Homo sapiens: one gene and its partners. The protein of the gene in region 1 interacts with the protein of each later gene in a biochemical or structural test. Each region holds a gene or a part of one and is shown in the gene's direction. Other genes may lie near its edges.

What was found.
Region 2: the proteins of NFKB1 (region 1) and ELF1 form a complex in vitro, tested with the Homo sapiens proteins (2 studies listed by BioGRID).
Region 3: the proteins of NFKB1 (region 1) and BTRC form a complex in vitro, tested with the Homo sapiens proteins (3 studies listed by BioGRID, with this or other methods).
Region 4: of the proteins of NFKB1 (region 1) and IKBKB, one has a biochemical effect on the other in vitro, tested with the Homo sapiens proteins (4 studies listed by BioGRID and IntAct).

What each region holds. Positions count from the first base shown.
Region 1 is NC_000004.12:102,504,342-102,511,370, forward strand, and holds part of NFKB1 (nuclear factor NF-kappa-B p105 subunit), read left to right. Parts: intron 1-6,538; exon of another isoform or gene 6,539-6,591; coding exon of another isoform or gene 6,592-6,608; intron 6,609-7,029.
Region 2 is NC_000013.11:41,016,291-41,023,190, reverse strand, and holds the start of ELF1 (ETS-related transcription factor Elf-1), read left to right. Parts: upstream 1-3,874; 5' UTR 3,875-3,963; intron 3,964-6,900.
Region 3 is NC_000010.11:101,532,136-101,539,164, forward strand, and holds part of BTRC (F-box/WD repeat-containing protein 1A), read left to right. Parts: intron 1-159; coding exon 160-297; intron 298-816; coding exon 817-935; intron 936-2,525; coding exon 2,526-2,775; intron 2,776-3,218; coding exon 3,219-3,337; intron 3,338-4,407; coding exon 4,408-4,518; intron 4,519-6,157; coding exon 6,158-6,236; intron 6,237-7,029. UniProt on the Homo sapiens protein: Substrate recognition component of a SCF (SKP1-CUL1-F-box protein) E3 ubiquitin-protein ligase complex which mediates the ubiquitination and subsequent proteasomal degradation of target proteins. Recognizes and binds to phosphorylated target proteins.
Region 4 is NC_000008.11:42,274,284-42,281,312, forward strand, and holds part of IKBKB (inhibitor of nuclear factor kappa-B kinase subunit beta), read left to right. Parts: intron 1-7,029.

The sequences.
Region 1 (7,029 bases):
TCCACAGATTGATCAGAAATCACATTAACAGGAATGGATGTCTATGCAAAATTTCTCATTAATTTTCTTACTTTTAGTAGGAAGTTTGTTTTATTCGGTTGGTCTGTTGGTTTTCTGTTTACAAGGTGAATTGTCTACAGTAGTGGGATTGTTATATTAGAAGAGAAGGAGAAGGAAAAATAGAAGTTAGTGCTAGAGGATATGTTAAGATGTTCTGCTCCTACATCTACATTTGTGTCTAATCAGCATTAATTGATGACTACGTCTTGGTAAACAGTAGACCATACTGGAGCAATTTACTCTGCTTTTTGGGAATTAGTTCTCATTTGCACTCTTGCACCTCCCATAAATACTGAACTCACTTGTAGTGTTCTTAGAGGTCAGCAATAAACCATCAAGAGCATATGATCTCTCTTTGAATTTTGTCACTACTTTGGAGACAGACAGTTTGGAAGAACTGAAGGTACTCAGCCTCAGGGAGAAAGGTTTGAACGTTTTGGCATAGTCCTGCAAGTCAGTTTGGCTCCTTGACTGTGAATTTTTTTAATCAAAAAAGATTAATATTTGAAACCACATAATTTGGACAGTTAATAGTTCTGGTAACATAACCAAGCCTTTTATCTTTGTAGTATTTCATTAATTAGTATCCAGTGCCTCACTTTTAGAAGAAAAAAAGAGAAAAAAGTAGTAACATTCTTTTAATGATGATGAAATTGCTTCATACCTTTGGTCTCTGCTGTATTAGGGGTTGTTCCTGGGTGCAAATTAATATACTGTCTTTTACATTTCCGGAGGTTGTTGACCTGGCCTTGAAGATCAGCCAACAGTTTAGAAAATAAGTTGTGCAAATTGCATTGCTACACCTCAAATAATTTAAAGCCTGACAGTTCTGTACAGAATAAGAGTCACATAAGATGTGATTTGTTAAAGATTATAGAAATCTCAGAAGATAGATTATGGATGAAAATATTTGTTTAATTTAGAGTACTAATAATAAAAATAGTGCATTTTACATTTTAAAAAGAAAACAATTTTTATTGTGTCATATTTTCTGTAGTAACAAACAGAATTAATTATCAGTAATACAAATTTCATCTGCTTTAATTTATTGCCTGTTTTTGAAATTAGAATAATGATATATTTGGTTTAATTATCCATTACAAATTGCCTTATTATTTTTCATTCATCTTTCACCATTAATCCAGAAACCTTAAAATAGCTTTTATTTTGACCCATGCCTTCAGTAGATATCAACAGACTTGAGTTCATCTATGGATCCTATTAGTTTAAACTGTGACAAATTTTGACTGCTTAAGCTTTAGAAAAGAATTTATTCTTTAAAATAGCCAAAATTATAAAAAATGAAATAAAGAAAAAGCTGTTTGAGAGAATCAAATACTCTAGTTTAACTAAAAATAAATAATATCTAATCAATACTGACGAAAGAAATATCTGATGCTTAGCATTGTACTTGTTGGTACATAGTAAGCAATCATTAACTGTTAAATGAATGAATGATATGAAGTTGTTGCAAAATTTTTTTTTAAATGGACAGCCATCTTCTATAAGGAACAAAAATTACATTATTTTGCTTTGCCTTCTGGAAAGAAAGGAGCACAAAATAGTCCTTGTGTCTTAGATATTATGGAAATCTTATCTAAAGACCACTTGAAGTTTACTAGAACAAATAATTTATTAAAAAGTATCTGGCGCCTTCCAAAAGGGGAACATTTCATTCTGAAAGAGGCATTTATGAACTAGAAAAAAAATGCCTTTTAGTTTCAAAGTTTTAGAGGCACCAGAGCAAGATTATAAAGTAATTGGAATGATAAAAGGTGCTTGTAAAATTGAAAAATGTAATTTTTTGGTGAAGTTAGAATTTCTGTACACTCCATTGAAACTGTAATATCAAATACTAATACCTCCAAAAAAGAAACAATGCTACAAGCACTGCTTGGTAATCTAAGAATTGTTAACACTTATCTAAATTAATCAACCAAAAAGTTAAAACAAAATATGTTATTTTGTTATGTTACCTCTAGAATTAAACACCTATCACCCATAAATCTGTGACTGTTAAAAGTTACTAGATGGCAAACCTCAGGAACAAGCAGGCAGTTAGCAGGGTTTACTGTACTTTCCACTTTCATACTTTAATGATTTTTCCAACACTATAGAAGCTGGGGCCTCATCCTAGCACAGTTTGTTCATTATTTTTCAGTTGTAGCATTTTTTAAAAGTTGGCCTTGAATTTCTGAATTGAACCATTTATTTTTTTGTGGACACAGTTTTTTAAATGAAATATACCATTTAGACTAGAAAAGAGCAAAATGCCAATACTCCCTGTCCTAGTGTCATTGTGCCCCCTGGGAACCCTAATGCAGTCCTGTGGGAAAACAACCATTTTATTGAGCGCTGCTCACTTCAGTTCATTCTGCTTTGCTGCCACTTAGTTCTGGTTCTGACCCTGATCTCCCCTCACATCACTCACAACAAACATTCAAGTTTAAAAATTAAGTTAAAAGTTAGTTACATATATATGTAACTAATGTGTATATTAAATATACTGATATATATTAGTTACATATACAGATATGGCAACAACAAAAAAGGTTATATATATACATATTTGTAACTAATATGTATATTAAATATAATGATATATGTATAAATACATATTTGTAACTAATATAATTATATTTAATATATATTAGTTACAAATATGTATATATAATATTTTTTGTTGTTGCCAGCAAAATGAGAAAGAAATTAAATGTTAACATCTATAACAATTGCACTGTAAAGCCGTCATTGTTGAAAAGTACTCCGAAGATTAATAGCGGCAGTGTTTGTTAAAATAATAAAATAATCCAGGCACTCTGCCTGTGACTTCCCCATGAGATGGCTTCCAGAAAAAGATAAATTTTTGTGTGTTCCCTTACGAGTTCAGTCTGCAGCTTCTGGGCATGAAGAGAAGCATAAACAAAACAAACAAGGCTCTAACTTTGTTATAATCCTTACGCTACTAGTAGAAATGTATGGACAATTCATGCATTTCATATTGGAAAATAAAGCTATTAGATTTTTCTTTGAGATGAACCTTTTTTTTGTAATTTATTTTTTATTTTTTATTTTTTTTCAGTAGAGATGGGATTTTGCTCTGTTGGCCAGGCTGGTCTCAAACTCCTGACCTCAAGTGATCCACCCGCCTCAGCCTCCCAAAGTGCCGGGATTACAGGCGTGAGCCACCTAGCTTGGCCAAGGTGAACCTTTTTGATAAATGAGGCTCACTAATATTTCTAGGATTTACTTTTCACTAACTTGAACTAAAGAAAGTATAAGACCTGCATAAAGTTGAGCATACCTCTATAATGTCCCATTTTAAAAAGCAATTTGTTTTTAATGACTTTTATTTGTTAAAAGCAGTTATTTCAAAAAATTATTTTTATTATTTATCATGTCATTTGGACTGAAAATACTATACCATATTTCAGTGTTAGGGCACACCTATCCCTCTTTATCCCAGACGTCAATTCTACCATATAACAAGTATGTAAAAAAGAAAACATAAAAGTGATGACAGACTCCCTAATCAACCTATTTATTGGTTCTAAGCCCAAGCCTGCAGTTCATTTAAATAGTGAAAATAGATTACTTAATTGTCTTAGAAAATATGTCTTCCATGACAAGAATTTTAGGAATGAGAAAATAACTATTTTTGGATGTTTTAACACAAATTCCCAAATCATGTTTTATTGATATTTGAAGAACCTCTTTGTCTACCAGTTCTTAAGTATAGGCTTATTTTGTAAGGCTTAAACATGTATTGGTGTTTGACTGTTAAGACTTGATCTATAACCTTCAGTGTCTTTTTCTTTTAAATGGGGTATGGACTTGGTAATGAGGCCAGAGGAGAATACCTTACAATTTATAGCATCTGCATATAATACAAGAACCTTCATGATTTATAAAATTAAAATGATGATGATGTGGAATGATGGAAGAAGCATGTGTGGGTGGCTATTTATGTAGAGGAAATTAGAAGTTGAAAGCAATGTTAAGAATTAAAATTAAATTACACTTAATTTTTTGCTCAGTTGGATAGTCAGGAAAGTACTTAAATCAGCAATTGATTTACGTAAAATCAAAACTGAAAACTGAATATACAATCTAGGAAATAGGAAAAAAATTTTTAGTGTGTTCATACTGCTAATTTCAAACCAAGCAAAAAACCTGGGGAACTACTTTTCAGAGGAGATGGCTTAAAATGAACCAAAAATATAGCCATTTCTCTACCCTATTCATTTAATGCATTCATTTATTATACTGCTAATACATGATAAGGTGAATAGGTTAAGCATCGTTTGTATATGTGTATGTGATTTTAAACCTGAGTCTTTTGAAAGATTGGTCAAAGCAAAGGATAATGAAAGCATAAAGATTTAGGGGGAAGAGTCCTCTATAAAACTAAGACTTAAACTTTGTTATCAACTTGAATGTGAAGATAGAATAATCTAGAAAGTGAATGAGAATTATAAATAAAAGGACAAATCATATATCTCATGGTTGAGAAATACAATGAGATAAATTGTATATCTCATCTCATGGAGGGTCATAATGAAAGAAGTAAGAGAGATTGCCCTTGGATAGAACCTTTCGGCAGACATTTCATAATGGATTATCATATTTTTGCTAAACTGGTAAGAATGGACTTTTCACCACATTATGAAAAAACACTTTAGAAGTCAGTTGCGATCAAGCAAATATAAGTACCTGGGAAATTAAAATCAAAAGCACAGCAGTCCAACAATAGTCAAATGCATTTACTCACTCTCATACCATATCATAGCGTTAATTTGAGATAATGTCTTTATGGTGTCTCTTTATATATTTACTCGATTTCCCATTTAAGACATTTAACCAAATTTAAAAAGCAATCCTTAGAAACTTTAAAAATATTTCCTATTTTAAACCATTACATAATCATTTACCCTGCAGTTACAATTCTTTTTTTGTGATGGGTGGGGAAGTATCCCATTTCTCTTAGAAAGTCTTCTGTAATAGCCAAATAGGAGTCAATCCAAGTTGCTTAGAGAGGTAGTTCAATCCTGTGTTGAAATAGATGACTTTTGGAGTAATTGTGCTATATTTACTGAGTATCTGTTGAACTGTAGGAGTCCAGTCATTCAAGGCAAGCTACAGAAATGATTTTATTGCTGAGGCACTTAAGTATCTTCACATCTATATGCCAATATTAAATTTCTCATCATCCTTGATCCCCACCCCTTTGCACAGATTGGTATCCCCAGCACATTAGGGAATGCGGTTGTTAGCCTGTTAGGGTCCATTCAGTAGATTTCTCATGCCAGAAATCTAGAAGCCCTTCTTATACATTCAGCTTTCTTCTTCAGTCAGTCACCAAGTTCTATCAAGGCAGCCTCCTCATCTCCAGAATCCATCCCTTCCTCGTTGAATTTCTAGATTTTATTTTTGCATTGTCTCCTGCTTCTAACCCATCGTTCATTTCGCATAATGGTCAGCTTTCTAAAGTGTAAATCGGATCATGTCTCTGCAGTGAATCCCAGTTGTCTTCACAAGCTGATTCTCGCACACCTCACCCCCTTACTCCCTCCGGTGTTCCCCAACCATCCCCTAATCTCAAATCCTCCACACCGACTTTCAGTTTCCTATCCACAGTTTCTGACTTTGAATGCCTTTGCTTATGCCCTCCCTGTATGAGAAGTGCCTTTTCTTTCCTAGCCATCCTGCTAACTTCTAAACCCTTAGGCCTGGTTTGAGCATCACCATTTCTCTCACTTGCCTTTCTGTTTTCTCCCTCCCCTTTCCATAAAGAGTTATGTGCCCCCATTCTGTGTTCTCCTGAATTCCTGTGGGTCCTAGAAAAGAAACATCTTGAGGGCAAGGAGTTCATCTTATTTACTTTTTATTTGCACAGCACCTGGTGTGTTTGCTGAATAAGTAAATACCGAACAAGATATCAAGAGACAGTGCTGCCAATTAACTGTGTGGCTCTGAGCAAGTTAATTAACTTCTCTGAGTCTTATTTTTGTTCTGTAAAAAAAATGAGGTTTGACAAAATGAGCATCTCTCTCTAAAATTATGTGTTTCTTTGATGTAATTGTATTAATTGGAAGACTTCAGATTTTCTTGCCATATCAAGATAGGTCAACTTAAGAAAAATGCATGTGAGTAAGTACCAAGCCAATTCTTGATTATCAGTATGATAATATGAGGAACTGCCCATTTTGTCGATAATAAGTTATAATTTTTGGTCTCAGTGTAGGTTCTTTCTCAAATCCAGATGTTTCTGGTGTTGCATTTTTTCATTATTATTCAGTCTCTCGCATTCATATTTCTCCAAAGAAATTTATGGAAAACTTGAGACAAAAATTGAATGTAAAGTTTAATATTTAAATGCTAGATTGATTCAAGGTCTCACTAATTATAACTATATTTGGAGGGAGAAGAAGGGGAGGTGGTGGTAGTATGAGCTGAATCCTCCTCTGTTCCTTCCTAGAAGGAACACAACGTCCTACATCAAGAAAAAAGACAGAAGCATATCTTGGAGATATGAAAAGAACCACCAGGTAAACTAAAAAGAAAAAGAGTGTTAAAAAGTCAGCCTTTAAAAAGCAGGATTGGAGATGAGGAGGGGTGGAGTAGGGGAAGCATTGCTTGTTTATAGAAGCTCTTCCATCTTCGTATAGTGTGATTTTTATTTTTTTATTATTTTTTCCTTCCTTTTTTTTGACCTCCAGCTTTAGTATAGTACAGTTGACAGAAATTATATATGTTTATGGTACACAAGATGATGTTTTGATATACATATGCATTGTGAAATGATTAAATCAAGCTGATTAACATAAGTAGGGTTTTATTTCTTTAACAGTGATTTATTTGAATATATGTTGAGTCCTTTCTATGTGCCAGACACAGTTCTAAGGACAAGGCACACAGTGCCAAACAAGACAGAAATCCAGAAATTCATGGAGCTTAAATCATGTAGTC
Region 2 (6,900 bases), on another chromosome or scaffold:
TTTGGTGGAGGAAATAAATAGTATCTGAAATTTAGTTGGCATTTAAATTCATTCAGTTGACTCAATCTCTCTCAGCTAATAGTTCAAATATACATGTTGACAATTCCATGAGCAGCCATGAAAGCTTTATATAAGGTATATACTGACTTGATCCATATCTAATTTTATAAATAAACATACCCACAGTATGTACATTTCATATACCTAAACTAGATTTATTTCTTCCTTCCTCCCTTCCTCCCTTCCTTTCTTTCTTTCTGTTCTGGGGTACATGTGCAGAACTTGGATATTTGTTACAAAATGTGGAGGTCTGACACAGAGTCTTGCTTGGTCACCCAGGCTGGAGTGCAGTGGTGCAACCTCGGCTCACTGCAACCTCCACCTCCCAGGTTCAAGCGATTCTCCTGCCTCAGCCTCCTGAGTAGCTGAGATTACAGGTGTCTGCCACCACACCTGGCTAATATCCGTATTTTTAGTAGAGACGGTTTCACCATGTTGGCCAGCCTGGTCTCGAACTCCTGAACTTCAGTGATCCACCTGCCTTGGCCTCCCAAAGTGCTGGGATTACAAGCGTGAGCCAACGTGCCTGGCCTAGATTTCTTTTTGTTAAAATCAGTTTTATTGAGGTATGGTTTATATGCAGTACAATTTGCCCTATTTAGTTTTATAGCTCTATGAATTTTGACAATGTACATAAGTCATATACCGGTACCACAGTCAAGATACAGAATATTTCTGTCACCCTCAACAGTTCCTTGTCTTCCTTTGTAGTCAACCCCCTCCCCTCATTTCCAGCCCCTAGAACTGATAGGATTTCTGTGCCTTCTGTTTTGCCTTTTCCATTATGTCACATATAAATGGAATCATACAGAGTCATGGAGTCAGTCTTATTTTGTTCAGCCTAATGCTTTTAGGTTCATCCATGTTGTCACATATATCAGAAATTCAGACCTTTTTTGTTGCTGAGTAGCATTCCATTATATGGATATACTATACCATTCCATTACATGGATTTATCCATTCACACATTGATGGACATTATTTGGGTTTTCAATATTTGGTGAATGATAAAACTGCTATATATATTTGCATAGAAGTTTTAAAATAGACACATATCTTCATTTCTCTTGGGTAAATGCCTAGGAATGGGATTACTGGATCATGTGATAAGTGTATGTTTATAGAAACTGCTAAACTATCTTCCGAAGTGGCTAAACTTTTGCATTCCCACCAGCAATATATGAGAGTTGTAGTCGCTCCATGTTCTCATCAACACTTGGTATTATTGGTGGTTTTTGTTTTGTTTTGTTGTGGTGGTGTCACATTAATTTGCATTTCCCTATTGAGTATTGATGTTGAGATATTTTCATGTACTTTTTTTGCCATCTGTATGACTTCTTTAGTGAAGTGTCTATTCAGATTTGACCATTTAAAAAACTGGATTGTTTTCCTATTTTTGAGTTGTGAAAGTGCTTTATGTAGTCTGGATAGCAGTGTGTGGACTTATTTTAATCCTCATAATCTGTGTGGTAGATACTATTAGGCTAAATGATAGATAAATAAGTTATGATGCAGGATTGTTAAGTAATTGCCCAAGATTACATAGCTAATAGGTAGCAGAGCTGGGATTGAAACCCAAGTAGATTGACTAGAACCTGTGTCAAACTGTTTGCCTTTTTTTTTCTCTTTGATCCTCTCATATGCAGAGATTGACTTATTGGGGCTGTAAATAGAACAAGGATCCAGTTCCTGTAGGTGATAGAATAATGCTAATAGGGATACCCCTGGGCAGAGGGATAATATATTGTAATGGCAGCTCTGGAGTCATCTCCTTAGGAACAGCTAAGATATTTGTTTCTGTTGAAGAGGTGTAATTATTTTCCCTTTAATTCTCTTCACATTACTGGTGGCCAGAGTACTTCCTTTAAATTATGTTTGGAATATTTGCCATTATTAAGTAATGAGGTGCATTATATAAATGGATTTTCTCAATAGCAGAAGCTTATCCTTTTAGATACCTGTTCTACATAAAACATCTCACACACTTGATGTTACACACTTTGGCTTTCGAAGGCCTGTCTTAAACTAATGCTGACTTGGAGACACTTAGTGTATGGTAATATACTTAGGGAATATTACAACTTACTGACCTTATATAATGGCTTCATATCTGAATACTTTTAAAGTTATGTTTATTTTTAGTTTTGTAAGGTGGGTTTTTTTAATGTCATTATCAGCTATTTCACTTTTTCTGACATCCTTTTATAATACTGTTGCCCTCTTTTACCTGTTACAGTTTTTATTTCTAATTAGCCAAAAGAAGATAATCAAATTGTTAGGTTTACATTCATGTTATCTAAAATAAATTTCAGATATGGAAAATTACCTGGGGGGAACTTTCCAGGGAACAAGTGAATCTCCCGTGACTGCTCAGCGGACCTTGTTTCTTGGTGCATGGGCTCTGAATAGTCATTTTGTGTAAGTGAACTAAAGTAAGCTAAATATGACATTTGACAGGAGAAAACATGGTCTATATTTCTTTTTAATAAATTTTTAATTAACAGTTTGTAAAACCATGGAGATTATTTTTCAGTAAAAGGATAAACCAAGCAATCTTCAGTGTAAGGAATAAATAGACAGCAGGCAGAAAGTTGGTTCACAATCATTGCTGTTTTGCAGCATTTTGTAAAGTTCCTAAGTCAGTGACAGCTTGTGCTCTCAACTATGCCTCTGGTAAGCCAGAATAAACTCCCAACTAATTAACTAAAGGGAGAAAACCTTGCTAAATCCTATTTACTTTTTGTAAGATACCAGGACGAAGGCTATCTATTGAGTTGCATTTATCATTTCAAGCGCTTTGGAAGTACTTAGTGCTTTCAAGCCATTTTGATTAATTTAAGCTCTTAGAATAAATTAATAAGTATTCACCCAGAGGCCAGAATAAGTAGGTGTAGTAATATTTCAGTGGCTTGGGCACTTTGTCAGATGTATTCTGACTTGGAAGGCAGAGCTTCACTGGCCACAGTTGTCCCCTTAGGTTGGCCTTGCCACAATTGCAGTGGAGCTGTAGCAGGGTGCCTGGCACAAGAGGCTTGAAATACATGTAGAAAATTTTGCTTGAAAGGTAAGTCAAACTGTAGCTATCATTTGGAAGTAGTAGAGTTATGAACTATGATCGTACCAATACTTTTTTAAAAGGGTTTTATCAAGCTTGCAGTTTATTTAAAATCATTTTGCTTTGTTGGACTTTAAATTCCTAACATTGGAGTGTGGGTTTTTAAAAATTCTGTAAACCAGTTTAATTCACACTTATTTTTCCACTGAACTTTGAATTTTCTAGTGGATTTTATCTGTTTAGTGAACTTACAGATCTGCATCTGGCTTTGTAGTTTGCTAGCCTTTCCAGACTACATAGCAATATATCTCTTTCATATGAGGGTTAATGAGTAGCCAGATTACACTCACCAGTCCATTGTTACATTAAGAGCCACAGAGTTTGCTATCTCCCTTCCATCCCCTTTCATACTTTTTTCCTTTCACAGTTTTATTTGATATAGTAAAGCAACTTTTAAAAATTGAGATTTTTATATTTTAAAACAATATATAGTTTTTAATTTTGCTCCCTTGTAGGTTCTTACTCTATTTTATTGTTAGTTTTAAATTATGGCAATTAATATGAGCTTAGTAATGGTCTAATCAAGGTAGATCTTGCTCCTTGCCTCTTCATCCCCACTTTCCTATACCGTTTTTACCTGCAGATTTGCATGTTTGACCTAGCAGAATAATTGGGTCCACAGCAACATGGGCGTGCCTCCCTTAGAAACACTTGGTTTCATGTATGACTCATAAGCTGAAGCACAGACACCACTTCCCCAATCTACAGGAGCCATTTTAACAGCTAAAACTTGTCGGATTGCTTTTTATTTTCAAGCTCAAAAGACGATAGAGAAAGAATACTTGAAGGTAACTTGTTACAATTTTGTATGTTTGCTTCTGGCTTTTTCTTGAGCTGATAAACAGAGGGTGGTTCTTACCTGTTGAAGAACATGGCTGAATGTGTTCTTTAACCCTCTGATAAAATGTGTGTGGTCAGTCACATGCCTGATTGAACTTAATTGCTAGGGGGAAACAAAGCACTGAAATTCTGGAAAGTTTTAGATCTTCTTGCTAAAGCATTTTGTATGTCTTTGTGATTTTTTTTCTATGTAATTTAAGAATAAAAGAGGTTTTTTGTTTGTTTATTTGTTTTTAAGTACCACAAAGCAAACTAAGGTCAAATTTTAATTTAAAAAACCTAATTGTATTTTTTGGGGTAGTTGAAGTTACAGTTAAGTAAACCGTATTATTCCTGTGTGATATAGATGTTAAATATCCAGGGGCAGTGGCTTTGTTTTGGCATTTTAGCTAAGGGTGAAGTTTTGGGACAACTCAGCCATAGGTGTTGCTCATTGACTGTTATTTATTTATTTTTTTCTCCCTCTCTGTTTTTTAAAGTTAATGAAATTATATTAAATGTTTCATTTTGGAAACCCAATGGAAATTTAAATGAATTGTTATTTAGATAATAAGTAAAAATGAATATTAGATTATTTAGATAACAAGTAAAAGTGAATATTAAATAGAGGAAGAAAGACTAGAATGATTCATTTACTATTAGAAAAAAATGAAGTTTTATAATTCACACTGAAAACTTGTTCTGAGTAACAACCTTAGAAGTAAAGCTGTCTTCTAAGGAAACGTAGTTATTTCAATTTTGTGTAAAAAGAAAAAGTGATGAGTATTGGCCTTCCTTTTGTATTACTGTTCTTAAAATTTGCCTGCCTTGAATTAAAAACCTTCTGTAAATGAAAAGATTGCTCAGTCTTTTCCTGAAGTACTTGTCATTGTAGTTATGAGATTTTGGCTGGCAAGTATACATCCTACTGTGCCTTAAAGTTCTAGGTGCTCTGTAAAGATGAGTGCAGTAGTATTTTATTTCTGAAACATATTTATGAAGATAAAATTGGAATATGCAGTGATTCCAAAAAATAAAGTTTTTGGATATAAAACTTGCCAAATCATTTCTTGTTGACCAAAATGATATTTAGCTAGTTCTTTGAGAATTTGCTATGCACTTACTAAGTGCTTGAAGGCCTGTCAGATTAAAGGGAAGAGACAAAGGCAATCAGTTATTATTTCTTACTCTTTTGTAAGGATTGTTGATATTAACAGATCTCAATTTTGCGGTCTTACAAGAAAGACACAGCGGACATTTTACCAATTCAGCTGAGCCATTTGCTATCATCTTTGTTTGCATATTGCTGGTTTAGTCAGCCTTTGAGTAAGCAAAAGCTGTATTTACTTCTAGTCTGGTCTGTGTGAAAAATCTAATGAAGACTTTTCTATTTTTTTTTTTAACTTTTTTAAGGTGGTGATCCATAAGAGAAAAATCAAGAGGCACACAAATAAGCGGCATAATTAAGATCTTATTTATTAAAGAGAAGTAGAGGAATTTGGTTTCTTAAATTTAAGAAGCTGGTACAGTTAAAGTAGTATAGATATTGTTTATGTATTTTCTTACGTGATAGAGACTGAAGTGGAGTTTCAAGGAGAAGGGAGAAGGGGGGGTAAAAAGAAGAGAACCAAGAAAAGACCAGAACAATTTATTAAGTATTTCCCTCTCCACGTTTTTCCTTCCATAAGATTGAATGTAAGTTTGAACTGACCCATCAGAATTAAATTTAGAATTAGTGATTTATAGAACTTTAGTGCTGAAAGTGACTGAAGATTGTCCAACTGCCTCACTTTTATAGATGAAGAAACAGTGGCCCACAGAGGTCCTGTGATTTGCTTGAGGTCATGCAGTACCTAATGGCAGGGCTTCGCAGTCTGGAACTGCTTGTGCCAGTCACAAGTGATGCTTTGTTTGAAATGCTCTATATTTCCTTAAGAGTAAATAAAACCTTAATTAAGATGTTTGGTGATAATCTTGGTGATAAGTTGCAACCAAATGGATCAACCAATGATTTTGAAAATGTAGTTTTCTTTTTCATCAGAAAGATGATGCATTCATTTTATTTCTACAACAACTTTTTGTTTTTCACTGTTAGAATTTTTTTGTTCATGACTGCTTATTTTAAGATGGCTTTAGATGGAAATATGAAGAGGTGGGAATTAAATTTGAGCTTCTAGATACAAAGACAGTTTTATTTCTGCTTTAGTTTTAGCTCATATATATATATATATATATATATATATATATATTTTTTTTTTTTTTTTTTTTTTTTTTTTTTTTTTGAGACGGAGTTTCACTCTTGTTGCCCATGCTGGAGTGCAATGGTGCAATCTCGGCTCACTGCAACTTCCGTCTCCCGGGTTCAAGCAATTCTCCTGCCTCAGCCTCCCAAGTAGCTGGGATTACAGGCATGCGCCACCACGCCCAGCTAATTTTGTATTTTTAGTAGAGACAGGGTTTCTCCATGTTGGTTAGGCTGGTCCTGAACTCCCGACCTTGGGTGATCCGCTCACCTCGGCCTCCCAAAGTCCTGTGATTACAGGCACAAGCCACCGTGCCCATCCTTGCCTCATATTCTTTTAGGAGGGCAAATATTGTTTAATGTGATACCTTGTTATACTAAAATATGTGTATGTGTAAAACTTTGCATGTGACTTTACAAAATCCAGAGGTGTCTAAGCTTTAACATTACACTTATCTTAAATTTGACCTTATTATAAGATAGTAATCTCATTTTATTTATCTTTGTCACATCTTCTCCTCCTCCTTTGAAATAAGAGAATTGTTTGGTATATACAAAATCTTTTGTCTGTTAACTTTTTGGTGTGTTTTATTGGGGTGGTTGGAAATTCTCTAGGTCTGAAATTCAGATTTTTAATGGTTTATGCATAACTGCTGAATCTCCT
Region 3 (7,029 bases), on another chromosome or scaffold:
AATATAGATAGTAGCCTTTTAAAGACATTTTTTAGTTTTCCCTAAGTTGTGTATATCCCATAGAGTAAAGCATTGAGCCATTGATTGTCATTAAAGCCTAAAAAGAGTTTGATTCTAGGTGTTTCCTAACACTGCCTCTTTCCCATTCCTTCTTCTCAGACAATAGAATCTAATTGGAGATGTGGAAGACATAGTTTACAGAGAATTCACTGCCGAAGTGAAACAAGCAAAGGAGTTTACTGTTTACAGTATGATGATCAGAAAATAGTAAGCGGCCTTCGAGACAACACAATCAAGGTGAGGTCTATTCAGTTGTAGAAAGGTAGCAGAGGGAGCAAGAGTGACCACATTCATAGCGCAGTCTAAAGCATAAACTCTAAGCATTATTTCTAGAAAGTAAGTGAAGATTTTAGATTGTTTCCAGTCCCAAAGCCAAAATCATTTCCTTAAAGGACAGACATCAGCTTCCCCACTATACAAACGGGTAGTCCTAGGGTTAAATTCTCTTCTTGAAATGCACTGAATGGGCTGTTACTCTTTTGGCCATCACATAATTATAGACTACCCTGTTCCTTAATGAAAAGGATAAAAGTTTGCATTAGTACTGAAGCTATATGTGTGTGTGTGTGTGTGTGTGTGTGTGTGTGTGTGTGTGCGCGTGTGCGCGCGCGCGCGCTTAGCTATACCTATAGAAAATGCATTCCACACTACTCTGGGCTTTGATTATTTTGGGGGATCAGACACGTAATAGGACCAACAAGTCTCCACAGCACCCCATCATCACATTGATCAAAAGGATCTTATTTGCCATCCTAGATCTGGGATAAAAACACATTGGAATGCAAGCGAATTCTCACAGGCCATACAGGTTCAGTCCTCTGTCTCCAGTATGATGAGAGAGTGATCATAACAGGATCATCGGATTCCACGGTCAGGTAGAAAATTTCAAATGCTTTTTTGAACTCTGAAATATCAGCTCTGCTCTGTTCTTTGTCATAGATAGTAATTTTGTATATATCGGCACAGTTCTGAAACTAAAGAAGAATAAACCACCAGGTCCCCATCATTTCTGTCAGTCTAGAACTAGAAAACTTGATTTAGAAATGCTTGAGGTAAGTTTACATTTTCGCACATTGAAGAAACTACACATTCTATTTTAATTTGGAGGATCATCTATTACAGAAACTTTTCTTATCCTTATGGTAAACTTTGCATTCCTTACAAAAACCACCTCACGGGGGAATGATATGAATGCAATGAAGCCTTCCTTTCAGGTAGTGGTAACTGTAGTGCAGGTCTGTATTATCTCCTTTGAAACATGTACAGGTGAGCTGTGCTCTCTTTGCCAGCCCCTCCCCTGCCATCCCTGCAGTTTTTAATTGCAAGCTTCACTCAGGTAGGGGCCCTCAATTTCCAGAGGCATTAGTGATTTGATGACACAGCCATTATACTGCTGGAGTCCAGGATAGCTTGAGTTCTGGGTACCAGCAGCACTGCTGGGAACCTCTGTTAGGAATTTTGCCGTAAGCTAAAGGATTTAGCAAACATAATGCATCAAAAGTAACTTTAAAAAAAAAATAGACCTAGGAAAAAAGCGGTTAAGTGCATTGTTAGATACTCTGAAGTTAAATGTTTACCATTCCAAGTTATCCTCTGTGAATAGAAAAGACGGTTCCTGTTTTTTGTCTTTTGACTTAAAGGCATAGCAAGGCATAGCAAACTTGGCCCTTGTAGTTACTGACATTTAACATTTATTGGTGCTTGTGGAGTGAGTGCCCCACAGAATCTAAAACACTGCAGGTGCTAACATCATTTATAAGATAAAGAAAAAATGATATTCTATAAAAGGGGGCTAAACTGGAAAAAAGGAAATAACATGTTATAAAACCTTAAGTAAATACACAAAAATAGAATAATCAAAATATATAATCACACAAAATTCTCAAGCTATCCAAGGGCCCCACACTCTGCTGTGAAGCCCATATTTACAATGGGGGGTCTATTTTAAACCCCTACCCACTTCAGAACACAGAAATGGGGGCTTAGAATTAGAGTCATGGTTATCTTGGCCTTTGACCTTTATGATAAAACCTGAGATCCAGGGTAATCAAACTCAAATTCACATTACTAAGTATGTGACAGAAGCATCTTGGCCTATTTCATTTCTGGCTCCTGAGGGCTATCATTGGAATGGGCACTAATGCTATTGTTATTAATCAGATTCCTCATTTAAAATGTATCTTACTAATGGTATCAAATTGAATGTGAGAAGTTTTACAGTCTTCAAGTCTGGGCCAAATTATTAGGTGACAGTGGCTGCCACTTCATCCTTGCCCTCCACAACTTGCCCATATTTCAAGCAGTATGTCTTAAGGACACACTGGCAGCATCCCATCCCCTTCCTTCTCCCACTCTCCCAGTCTGGCCCTCTCTCTAAATATAAGGGGTGGAAGGGCGCATGATGGTCAAATATAGGTAACAGATTGTAGCTTGAGTACCATCTAAATCTCATCTATCACTTCCAGAGTGTGGGATGTAAATACAGGTGAAATGCTAAACACGTTGATTCACCATTGTGAAGCAGTTCTGCACTTGCGTTTCAATAATGGCATGATGGTGACCTGCTCCAAAGATCGTTCCATTGCTGTATGGGATATGGCCTCCCCAACTGACATTACCCTCCGGAGGGTGCTGGTCGGACACCGAGCTGCTGTCAATGTTGTAGACTTTGATGACAAGTACATTGTTTCTGCATCTGGGGATAGAACTATAAAGGTAATAAGGCATTTTTCAGTAAGTTTCCAACTTAGAATGGGGGAATTCATATGAAAATTTGATCAAGGGCAATTTCATATTTAAACGTTGCTACAGAAAAATGTAATATTTAATTCAGAGACTAGTCTACAAGTGAAAAGGTGTAATAAGTGAGACGTTGTGTGACAATTTATCCTAGATATTTTATTCCTATAAATAGTGGTGAGTGTGAGAAGAGACTAACCCTAGAAGAGTAAATCAATCTGAGGAATTCTCATGTGGTAACAGCCAACTGCAAATTAGCCTCTGTTACCATGAATTTAAATTGTCCTTTGTTTTATTTGTTTGAGAAGACTTCCCTCTAATGGTTCAGTCCTGTTTTCTGCTTCTCTAAGACTCCATTTGCCATAGATTTTACCAATAAAAGCACCAAATCAACTGCTCAATGCCATTTTCTTTTTCAGGTATGGAACACAAGTACTTGTGAATTTGTAAGGACCTTAAATGGACACAAACGAGGCATTGCCTGTTTGCAGTACAGGGACAGGCTGGTAGTGAGTGGCTCATCTGACAACACTATCAGGTGAGCAGCAAGTGCCTTGTATCATAAGGGATCAATATTATGCTCCCATTCATTATTAATGCACAGATCATACAAGTCTTCAATTTTGTTATGTTTATAATCAACTGTTTTTCCTTTCTGTAGCTTCTTACAGGTCAGAAGTTTGCCCCAGGCAGAGAAGCAGCACAGCAAAGCCTTTTGTTGCCCTTCTTTTTAAATTTCTCCTGTCTACCGTTGAAAAGTGCTAATAAACAGCTAACAGCCTTTTCTTTGCCATTGTTTTTAAGAAATGAAAAGAAAGATTTGTTTCCTTACTAGAAATTATGTAATTTTTGTCTTAGCATTACATAATTGGCCAGAGAGTTACCTGTCTTTGAAATTATGAAGATTTCACAGTTGGAAGTCCTTTTTGGGGTTTTCCCTTCACAAAGATGAATGACATAGATATGATTATAATTTGGAAGATTTATCCATCCTCTCCCTTCAGTGAAGTATTAAAAGGATGAAAAGGCCATTAAAAAAGAGCTACTGTTTGTTATATCTAAGGAAATTATTCCTAGAAATCACTTGAATTGCTCTGAAAACGTACAGTTTTTATAATTAGTACACAAAAGTTCTTGAGAACTGACTTTGCATTTCTATTCTCTGAGAAGAGCTGTCCTGGACAGTGGTGAAAGAAGTGTCTGCCGTGGCAGAGGGGGAGGTGCTTTGTGAGAACAGGACATCACTGATAATCTGTATCTCTTTCAGTTTGGTGACTTCAGGAAACTGCTTTCTTAGCTTGGTCATTTCCTTCTCAGGCAACTGCGTGCATTGAATTCGTTTTTATGCCTGGAAGAACCTGTTTACAGAATTATGTAAAGCCCTGTGCTTTGAAAATACATTTTACATTTGAACTTAAACCTACATATTTCTGTGTGAGTTATATAGCAGAAAGGAAATAAATTACATTGAAAGCAGTACATATCTGTGTGGGTGGTGATTGATTTTATTTTATGAATTTTTAGAAGGCATATGAGGTGTATTGTTATAACATTCCAGGCTTAGAAAAGAATACGTGAAAATTCACCTGACTTAATTTTCTCTTCCAGATTATGGGACATAGAATGTGGTGCATGTTTACGAGTGTTAGAAGGCCATGAGGAATTGGTGCGTTGTATTCGATTTGATAACAAGAGGATAGTCAGTGGGGCCTATGATGGGTGAGTGTGCTAACAGAGTGTAAAAAAGAGAAAATCTACGTCTTAATCCTTCCTTATGTTTATGGTGTTAAACATAACCATTCCTTGTTTCTAAAAGCTTATAGATTTTACACAAAATATCTGATACCATATTTCTTTAATCCGTGTATTTACCTCTCCTTGGTTTAGTGTCCTGAAATATTCTTCCCATTCATTTTATTATACTTGTTTGCACATGGTTGTCATTCATATTTTGGTTATTTGGTTATGTATTTGACTGTTTTGCCCTGTAAAGCAAAGAACAAGAAAAACCCAGTGTTAACAGGCTACCCATGTAAAAGGGTAACCTGTTAACAAAACAGAAACACTAGAGGGCAGTATTTGGGGACTTAGTGTGGTAAGATCTTGAATTTTGATTTCTTGGGTTTTTTATCTCTTTGAGTAATTTTTAAGAGTACAGTTCTCTTGTCATCACTTGTCATCCTAGCATTTCATTTATGAGTTTAGTCATCTTTATTTTCTTCTAATTTCTAGTGGTTATGGAATCCATTAATTTTGTGAATGGACCCCATGTCCACCAATCCTAAACACAGAGTAAATTCAAACAAAAGTAGTCTGGGCACAATGGCTCATGCATTTAATCCCAGCACTTTGGGAGACCGAGACAGGTGGATCATTTGAGGTCAGTAGTTCGAGACCAGCCTGGCCAACATGGCAAAACCCAGTCTCTACTAAAAGTACAAAAATTAGCCAGGTGTGGTTGCGGGCGCCTGTAATCCCAGCTACTTAGGAGGCTGAGGCAGGAGAATTGCTTGAACCAGGGAGGCAGAGGTTGCAGTGAGCCAAGATTGCGCCACCACACTCCAGCCTGGGCAACAGAGCGAGACTCCGTCTCAAAAAAAGAAAAAAAAATAGTTATTCACTTAGGAAGAACTCTTATCATTTCTTTTTGTCAATCTGCCTGATTTTGGCAGCTTTTTAAATATCAGAAACTAACAACATTATTTTAGTTCATGAGTTAACTACACTGATACATTCATTAGCCAATGCAAGCAGCAGGAAGTGTAGACTGCTCACTTCTTCTGCTTTGGGACAGCCATCACTGTTACAACCTTGGGAAATTGTTCAGAGTGTGGTGACATGTTCCAGCTTGGTCAAGACAATATTTTCTTATTGTCCTGGCTTTGATCTGTACCCACCTGTCTTGGAATTTGTCTGCTATGTACCTTGAGGAAACATGGCCTATTAAAAGATTTTTGGAAGAGCTACACTTATCTTATTTAAATCAAAAGATGAGGGCTTGCTTATATAAACTCCATTGCTCTTACATGGACCCCAGTCCCTCAGTACATGTGACCTGGGCCACTCTTAGAAGTGCCCAGGAAGAGGATGCTTCACAGTTGTAGATTTCTAGGTCTGTGTAATATCATTAAAAGGTCTAATGTACAAGATCTCCTCTTGATCCCAAAGTATGGTATAACTTTACTGTTAACTGTCTTCAGTTTGGTTAAAGCTAGCCTGTTTCTCATTTGTAGGTTAATCACGTACATTTGAACTATACTCACCATCCATATTTATTGCCATGAATTTCTGCTATTCTTCCCTGCCTTCTCTTACATTTGCTTTTAACTAACATTTTTGTCCCCTTTTTGATCTTTAGAAAAATTAAAGTGTGGGATCTTGTGGCTGCTTTGGACCCCCGTGCTCCTGCAGGGACACTCTGTCTACGGACCCTTGTGGTAAGAGCCTTGCTGTTTAGAGAGCATTGGAGAGCAGGTGGGGGAAGAAATTAAACGTTGATGTGCTGTGGAATATGGATTTGAATTTAATAGTTACAACCTCACAAAACCTACAACTAAGTGGTAAGGCAACCAGTACATGACAATAAAATATGTTTATATAATTCCTTTCATCCAAAAATGCTTTAGAGACTATATATGGAGAGAAATGTGGCAGCTGTTTAACAGCTGCACAGCAACTCTACACAACAGTTTAGTGCAGGGAGTGAATAAGAATTCTGTATCCACCAGAAACAGCAGGGGGTACTAAGGGAGAGAGAATATAATTATTCAAATTGGAACCTGTCCAAAATCTGAGGACCTGTACACCTGTGCCTTCAAAAAGTGCCCTGGGGGCCGGGTGCGGTGGCTCATGCCTATTATCCCAGCACTTTGGGAGGTCAAGGCAGATGGATCACCTGAGATCAGGAGTTCAAGACCAGCTTGACCAACACGGTGAAACCCCATCTCTGCTAAAAATAAAAAAAAAATTAGCCAAGCATGGTGGCAGGTGCCTGTAATCCTAGCTACTCAGGAGGCTGAGGCAGGAGAATCACTTGAACCTGAGAGGCGGAGGTTGCAGTGAACCAAGATCATGCTTGCACTCCAGCCTGGGCAACAAGAGCGAAACTCTGTCTTAAAAAAAAAAAAAAACTGCCCTGGGAATCTGCATGAATCCCCCTGGTCAACCCCTTAGTTCTGCAGCCTATTCATGAGGTAGTGCCTCCAGCAACTTGAGCCCATCTTTTTTGTT
Region 4 (7,029 bases), on another chromosome or scaffold:
CCACCCAAAGTGCTTGGATTACAAGCGTGAGCCACTACGTCCGGCCTGAAATATACAATAAAGTTTTATTCACTGTAGTCACCCTGTTGTTCTTTAGAATACTGTAACTTATTCCACCTAACCGTAATTTTGTACCCATTAACCAGTCTCTCCCTATTTCCCTCCACAACTCCCCCCACCCCCACCACCCTTTCCTGCCTCTGGTGACCACTATTCTACTTTCTACTTCTGCGAGATTAGTTTGTTGTTGTTGTTGTTGTTGTTTTGAGACGGAGTTTTGCTCTTGTCGCCCAGGCTGGAGTGCAGTGGCGCGATCTTGGCTCACTGCAACCTCTGCCTCCCAGGTTCAAGTGATTCTCCTGCCCCAGCCTCCCGAGTTGCTGAGATTACAGGTGCCTGCCACCACACCTGGCTAATTTTTGTATTTTTAATAGAGACGGGGTTTCACCATGTTGGCCAGGCTGGTCTCGAACTCCTGAACTTAGGTGATCCCCGCCGGCGCGCCCCCCCCCCCCCCCGCCATCCCAGCCTCCCAAAGTGCTGGGATTACAGGTGGGAACTACCGAGCCTGGACGAGATCAGTTTTTTTTTGTTTGTTTGTTTTGTTTTTTGAGATGGATTCTTGCTCTGTTGCCCAAGCTGGAGTGCAGTGGCACAATCTTGGCTCGCTGCAACTGGTGTCTCCCAGGTTCAAGCGATTCTCCAGCCTCAGCCTCCCAAGTAGCTGGGATTATAGCCGTGCACCACCACGCCTGGCTAATTTTTGTATTTTTAGTAGAGACAGGGTTTTACCATGTTGGCCAGTCTGGTCTCAAACTCCTGACTTCAGGCGATCTGCCTGCCTCGGCCTCCCAAAGTACTGGGATTACAGGCATGAGCCACTGTGCCTGGCATTTTTTTTTTTTTAATTTTTAATTTCTTTGGAGATAGGGTCTCAATCTGTCATCCAGGCTGAGTGCAGTGGTGCCATCATGGCTCACTGTAGCCTTGACCTCCTGGGCTCAAATGATCCTTCTGCCTCGGCCTCCTGAGTAGCTGGGACTACAGGTGTGCGTTGCCATGCCCGGCTAATTTTTGATTTTTTGTAGATAGGAGGTCTGTCTGTTGCCCAGGCTGGTCTCGAATTCCTGGACACAAGTGATCCTCCCACCTCAGCCTCTCAAAGTGCTGGGATTACAGGTGTCAGCCAACAGACTTTACCCAACTGAGATCAGTTTTTTATTAGCTCCCACGGATGAGTGAGAACATGTGGTATTTATCTCCCTGGGCCTGGCTTAATTCCCTTAATGTAATGCCCTCCAAGCTCATCCATGTTGCCACAGATGGCAGGATTTCATTCTTTTTTATGGCTGAATAAGAGTACATTGTGTCTGTGTACCACATTTTCTTTGTTCATTTGTTCATTGATGGACATTTAGGTTGATTACATATTTTGGCTATTGTGAATAGTGCTGCAGTAAACGTGAGGGTGCCCATATCTCTTTGATAAACTGATTTCCTTTCCTTTGGATAGATACCCAGTAGTGGGATTGCTGGATCATATGGTAGTTCTATTTATAGTTTTTCTTTTTTTTTTGAGACGGAGTCTTGCTCTGTCAACCAGGCTGGAGTGCAGTGGCATGATCTCAGCTCACTGCAACCTCCGCCTCCCGGGATCAAGCAGTTCTCCTGCTTCAGCCTCCAAGTAGCTGGGATTACAGGTACATGCCACCATACCCGGCTAATTTTTATGTTTTCAGCAGAGACGGGGTTTTACCATGTTGGTCAGGATGGTCTCGAATTCCTGACCTCAGGTGATCCGCCTGCCTCAGCCTCCCAACCTGCTGAAATTACAGGTGTGAGCCACTGCGCTAGCCTTGTTTGTAGTTTCTCAAGGAACCTCCATACTATTTTCCATAATGGCTGTGCTAATTTACATTCCCACCAATAGTGTATAGAGTTCCGCTTTCTCCACATCCTTGCCTTCATTTGTTACTTTTTGTCTTTCTGATAATAGCCATTTTAACTGTGGTGAGATGATATCTCATTGTGGTTTTGATTTGCATTTGTCTGATGATTAGTGATATTGAACATTTTATCATATACTTGTTGGCCATCTGTATGTCTGAGAAATTCCTGTTCAAATCATTTGCCCATTTGAAAAATTGGATTATTTATTTTTTTGCTGTTGAATTGTTTGAGTTCCTTGCATATTCTTGATATTAATCCCTTGTTGGATGGATAGTTTGCAAATAATTTCTCCCATTCCATAAGTTGTCTCCATAGGTTCCATAGGTTTATTCTGTTTTTTCTTTTGCTGTGCAGAAGCTTTTTAGTTTGATGTAATCTCATTTGTCTACTTTTGCCTCTGTTAACTGTACTTTTGAGGTCTTATCCATAAAATCTTTTCCCAGACCAATGCCCTGAAGCACTTCCCGTATGTTTTCTTGTTTTTTTTTTTTTGAGACAGTCTCACTCTCAGCTGAGACAGGTGCGATCTCGGGTCACTGCAGCCTCTATCTCCTGGGTTCAAGCGATTCTCCTGCCTCAGCCTCCTGAGTAGCTGGGATTACAGGCAGCGCCATCACACCCGGCTAATTTTTTTTTTTTTTTTTTTTTTTTGAGACGGGGTCTCGCTCTGTCGCCCAAGCTGGAGTGCAGTGGTGTGATCTCGGGTCACTGCAAGCTCCGCCTCCCGGGTTCATGCCATTCTCCTGCCTCAGCCTCCCAAGTAGCTGGGACTGCTGGCGCCTGCCACCACCCCCGACTAATTTTTTTTTTGTATTTTTAGTAGAGATGGGGTTTCACTGTGTTAGCCAGGACGGTCTCAATCTCCTGACCTTGTGATCCGCCTGCTCGGCCTCCCAAAGTGCTGGGATTACAGGCGTGAGCCACCGCACCCGGCCACGTGTGGCTAATTTTTTTTTTTTTTTTTTTTGCAACGGAGTCACGCTCTGTTGCCCAGGCTGGAGTGCAGTGGCTTGATCTCGGCTCACTGCAACCTCTGCCTCCTGTGTTCAAGCGATTCTCCTGTCTCAGCTTCCCAAGTAGCTGGGATTACAGGCACCTGCCACCATGCCTGGCTAGTTTTTATATTTTTAGTAGACACGGGGTTTCACCATGCTGGCCAGGCTGTTCTCAAGCTCTTGACCTCAAGTGATCTGCCCACCTTGGCCTCCCAAAGTGTTGGGATTACAGGCATGAGTCACTAACAGGCGCCTGGCCTGTTATTTATTTTTAAAAAGCCAAAAGCCAGCTTCCTCCTCCTGCCGGCTGAACCCCACACAGTCTGTCTGCACCTGCCTCTCCATCATTCCTCCCCTTGGCTGCCTCTGTTTTGAGCGCTGAGCCCTCTTGCCGGACAGGCCTCCCCCTCCTCCACATTCCTCCAGGACCAACTCTAGGCCATCTCCTCCTCATATGCGTCTGGGATGGCTTTGTTCTGTGGCAACTGGTTCTCCCGGTGAGTTCCTCTGGGCTGGTTCCTGTGCCGCCCTTCCTGTCTGCGTGTGGAGTAAGTCTTGTCAGGACCCTGCATTCCTGGTCAGCCAGGGCTGGGTCTGGCCTTTGGAGTTCCTTCAGTTCTCCTGTAGCAAGTGCCTGACGTTGTATATGTGCTAGGTGCCCCAAATCATCCACTCTGCCAGTCCACAAATATTTATCGAATGTCTATTATGTGTACATTGGTAATTAAAGCAGACCTTTGGAGAAGGGAAGGAGCCATTAGTCAACTAATTATAAATGTAAGCTCCTAAGTATGGTAAAGTGTGAGTTGGGAGAAGGACCCAGTGCACTGAGACCTTCCGTTGGGGTGGGATCAGTCAGTGTCAGAGGAGGTTCCCCAAGGAAGTGACACTTGAACTGAGGCCCTAGTAGAAGTCAGCTTGACAGAGAAGGTGGGAGGAGAGTTCCAGGCCAAGGGAGAGGCTCCTGAGGGGCCTCTGTGGAGGGCAGGTGTGGCAAGTGGGCAAGACTGAAGGCCAGCGTGGCCGGAAGGGAGGATGGGGCACAAGTGCCTGGGTGGCTGAGGGTGGACGGTGCAAGTCAGATCCTGTGGTGTTTTTTGGGCAGTTTCAGCCGAGGAGGTTTTGTTTTGATGGAGGAGCAGTGGAACGATGTTAGAGGGAGGCGCTGTGCCCATGGGGACAGATTGGGAGGGCCCAAGCAGTGGGCAGCGTGCTGGGAAAAAATCAGCTCTCGGAAGAAATGCCTTGATCCATAGTGTGCAGCAGTTCTCATGGAGTAGCTACTCCCACCAGGGCTGACTTCAAGCCACCAGTAGTTTAATAGCCCGCTCCGGCCTGATTCCTGAGTAGTTAACAACCAGCTCTCAGTGACTGCTACTACAGTGTCACTGGCTCCGTCCCAGTGATGCAGGCAGACCAGGTCTGAATGTTTTGGAGTCGTCTAGGTGAGAGATGGGGAGAGGTGGGCAGACTTAAGAGATATTTAGCCTGGTGCAGTGGCTCATGCCTGTAATCCCAGCACTTTGGGAGCAGAGGCAGGTGGATCACCTGAGGTTGGGAGTTCGAGACCAGCCTGACCAACGTGGAGAAACCCCGTCTCTACTAAAAATACAAAATTAGCCAGGCATGGTGGCGCATGCCTGTAATACCAACTACTCAGGAGGCTGAGGCAGGAGAATTACTTGAACCCAGGAGGTGGAGGTTGCAGTGAGTCGAGATCGTGCTACTGCACTCCAGCCTGGGCAACAAGAGCGAAACTCTGTCTGAGAAAAAAAAAAAGAGAGAGAGAGATTTAAGGGGTGGAATTAACAGCGCTTAGTGGTGGAGTAGAGGTGGAGGGGAGCAGGAGGAGTGGAGTGCCTGCAGGTCCTCAATGATGCCTACCCGTGAGCCCGGCCCAGGCCAGGAAGCTCTCTACCTTCCTTCCCCGTGGGTTCTCCCCAAGTTTGGGAAATCTCTAGGGCTGCTTTGGGTGCTGAGGAGAAGTCTTTGATCATTGTCCAAGTTCAGAAGATGAGCGTGTATGTTCTCTGTTGGGAACCCCTCTGTTCACAGCCTCTTAAAAGAAGCAGCTGGGCTATGGTGGTGTTGGTTCCTTGACTCTGATGGTTTTACTCCACGTAACAACAGTGTGCACTTTCCTGACACTCCATGCACTGCATCTTGTCTGCAGAAGAAGGAATGTTGTAGTTATCACAATAGAAGTTACATGAAAAAGCCCCTAAGCATGGGTATCCTCAGTCAGAGAAGTGGCCTGATAATCAGAGGCATCATTTACTGAGAACCTGCTATGCGCCAGCATCAAACTAGGTATTTACGTGCTTTCTCTCCAGCCCTCACAACTCTGAAAGGAAGTACTGTTGTCTTTGTTCCCATTTTATAGTTGAGGAGACTGAAGCACAGTCTCTGTGACTCACCCACAGACCTGAGCTCGCAAGCAAAGAGGCTAGGATTGGAACCTGCGTCTGTTCGGAACCCAACCTCATGCTTTTTCCATTGTGCCTGTGGCTTCTCTGTGGTGAGGACTCAGGGGGAGGCCTTGGTGTTCCTTAGGCTCTCATTGTTCACCACAGTCTAAACCTTTTTGAAGCAGGAAGGGGAAAACACTTCTTTATTGATTTTTTGTTGTTTGTTTTTTGAGACAGGGTCTCCCTCTGTCACCCAGACTGGAGTGCAGTGGCTCGATCAGGGCTCACTGTAGCCTTGAACTCCCAGGCTCAAGGAGTCCTCCCACTTCAGCCTCCTGAGTAGCTGGGACTACAGGCGTGAGACACCACGCCTGGCTAATTTTTTTATTTTTGTAGAGATGAGGTCTTTCTATGTTGCCCAGGCTGGTCTGGAACTCCTGGGCTCAAGCAGTCCTCCTGCCTTGGCCTCCCAAAGTGCTGGGATTTCAGGCATGAGCCACTGTGCTTGGTTGAAAAACACTTCTTTGGAGGACAAAACACTTATAAGTCTTCCTTGTTAGACAGAGAACCCCACATTGAGTGTTTCCCAGGGAGGGAGGGCAGTGAACAAGCGAGCCCCACCACAACCTGCTTCCCCTGTTCTTGTGGTTCTCCTGCCACGCGGGCCTCACCATTCCACATTGTGTCGGGACTCCCTAAGACCTCCAGCCCAGGGGTCAGCACAAACCACTTCCCAGTACCGTTTAGATAGGCTGATATTTTCAATGAGACCTTTGTTAAATACAAAGGAAGAGGAGGAGGAGATAACCGAGTGCTCCCACCTGGCAGCATGTTTTGGGAGTGGGGGCGGGAAACACGATACTCAGTCACACAGACCTGGGTTCAGATCCTGGCTCTGTCAGCGTCTTGGCTGTGGGTCCCCACTTTTTGCATGGATTATGGGGATTCTCCAATACTGATCTCCTCAGTGCTGGGTCCCCAACATGGCTGGGCAGGATGTGGGTCAGCTACCTTCTGGAAGCCACCCAGGGTACCTTGTGATATCATCATGTTCTGTGTACACTTGGCTGTGAGGAGGGCCAGGAAGCGCTGCCTGGGGCCCTGCGGGATGCTCGTTGGGGTGGAGGAGGCAGTGTGTGTACTGGCTGTTAGAAGGCAGAGTATTAACGATCCCTTCTATGAAGCAGCACGGACCTGTACTTGTCCCTTTATGGGACAAGGCAAAGCTTTCCACAGCTTATCTGTGTGCTTGGAAGCCTTAAAGCCTCTGCTCCGTTCAGTCACTTCTCTAGGGATTTATAGAGCCTGGGCCCGAGCTCTGTCAGGGATACCAGGAAAAAAGGGTCCCTGCCCTTCGTGTGCTTACTCTCTGATCACAGTGATCCAGGGAGCATTCAGAAATGCATTAAGTGAGTCTAAATCCAAGCACCGAACTGCATGGATAACAGTGGCTGCCATTTTTCCAGGGCATCATGTGGCATCTGAGCTGGGTTCCCTGTCCGCATGATCTCTCCCGAACGCTGGGGAAGGGAGGCTTCTTGGGGTGAATGGAGCTTTAGCAGGATCTGGAAAGGAGGTACACTTTCGAGGGCCTGGCAAGAAGACAGAAGCCGACTCAGGTGGGCAGAGCAGCATCTCCACAGGGCCAGAAAAGGAAGTGAGGCTGCGGTCGTTTA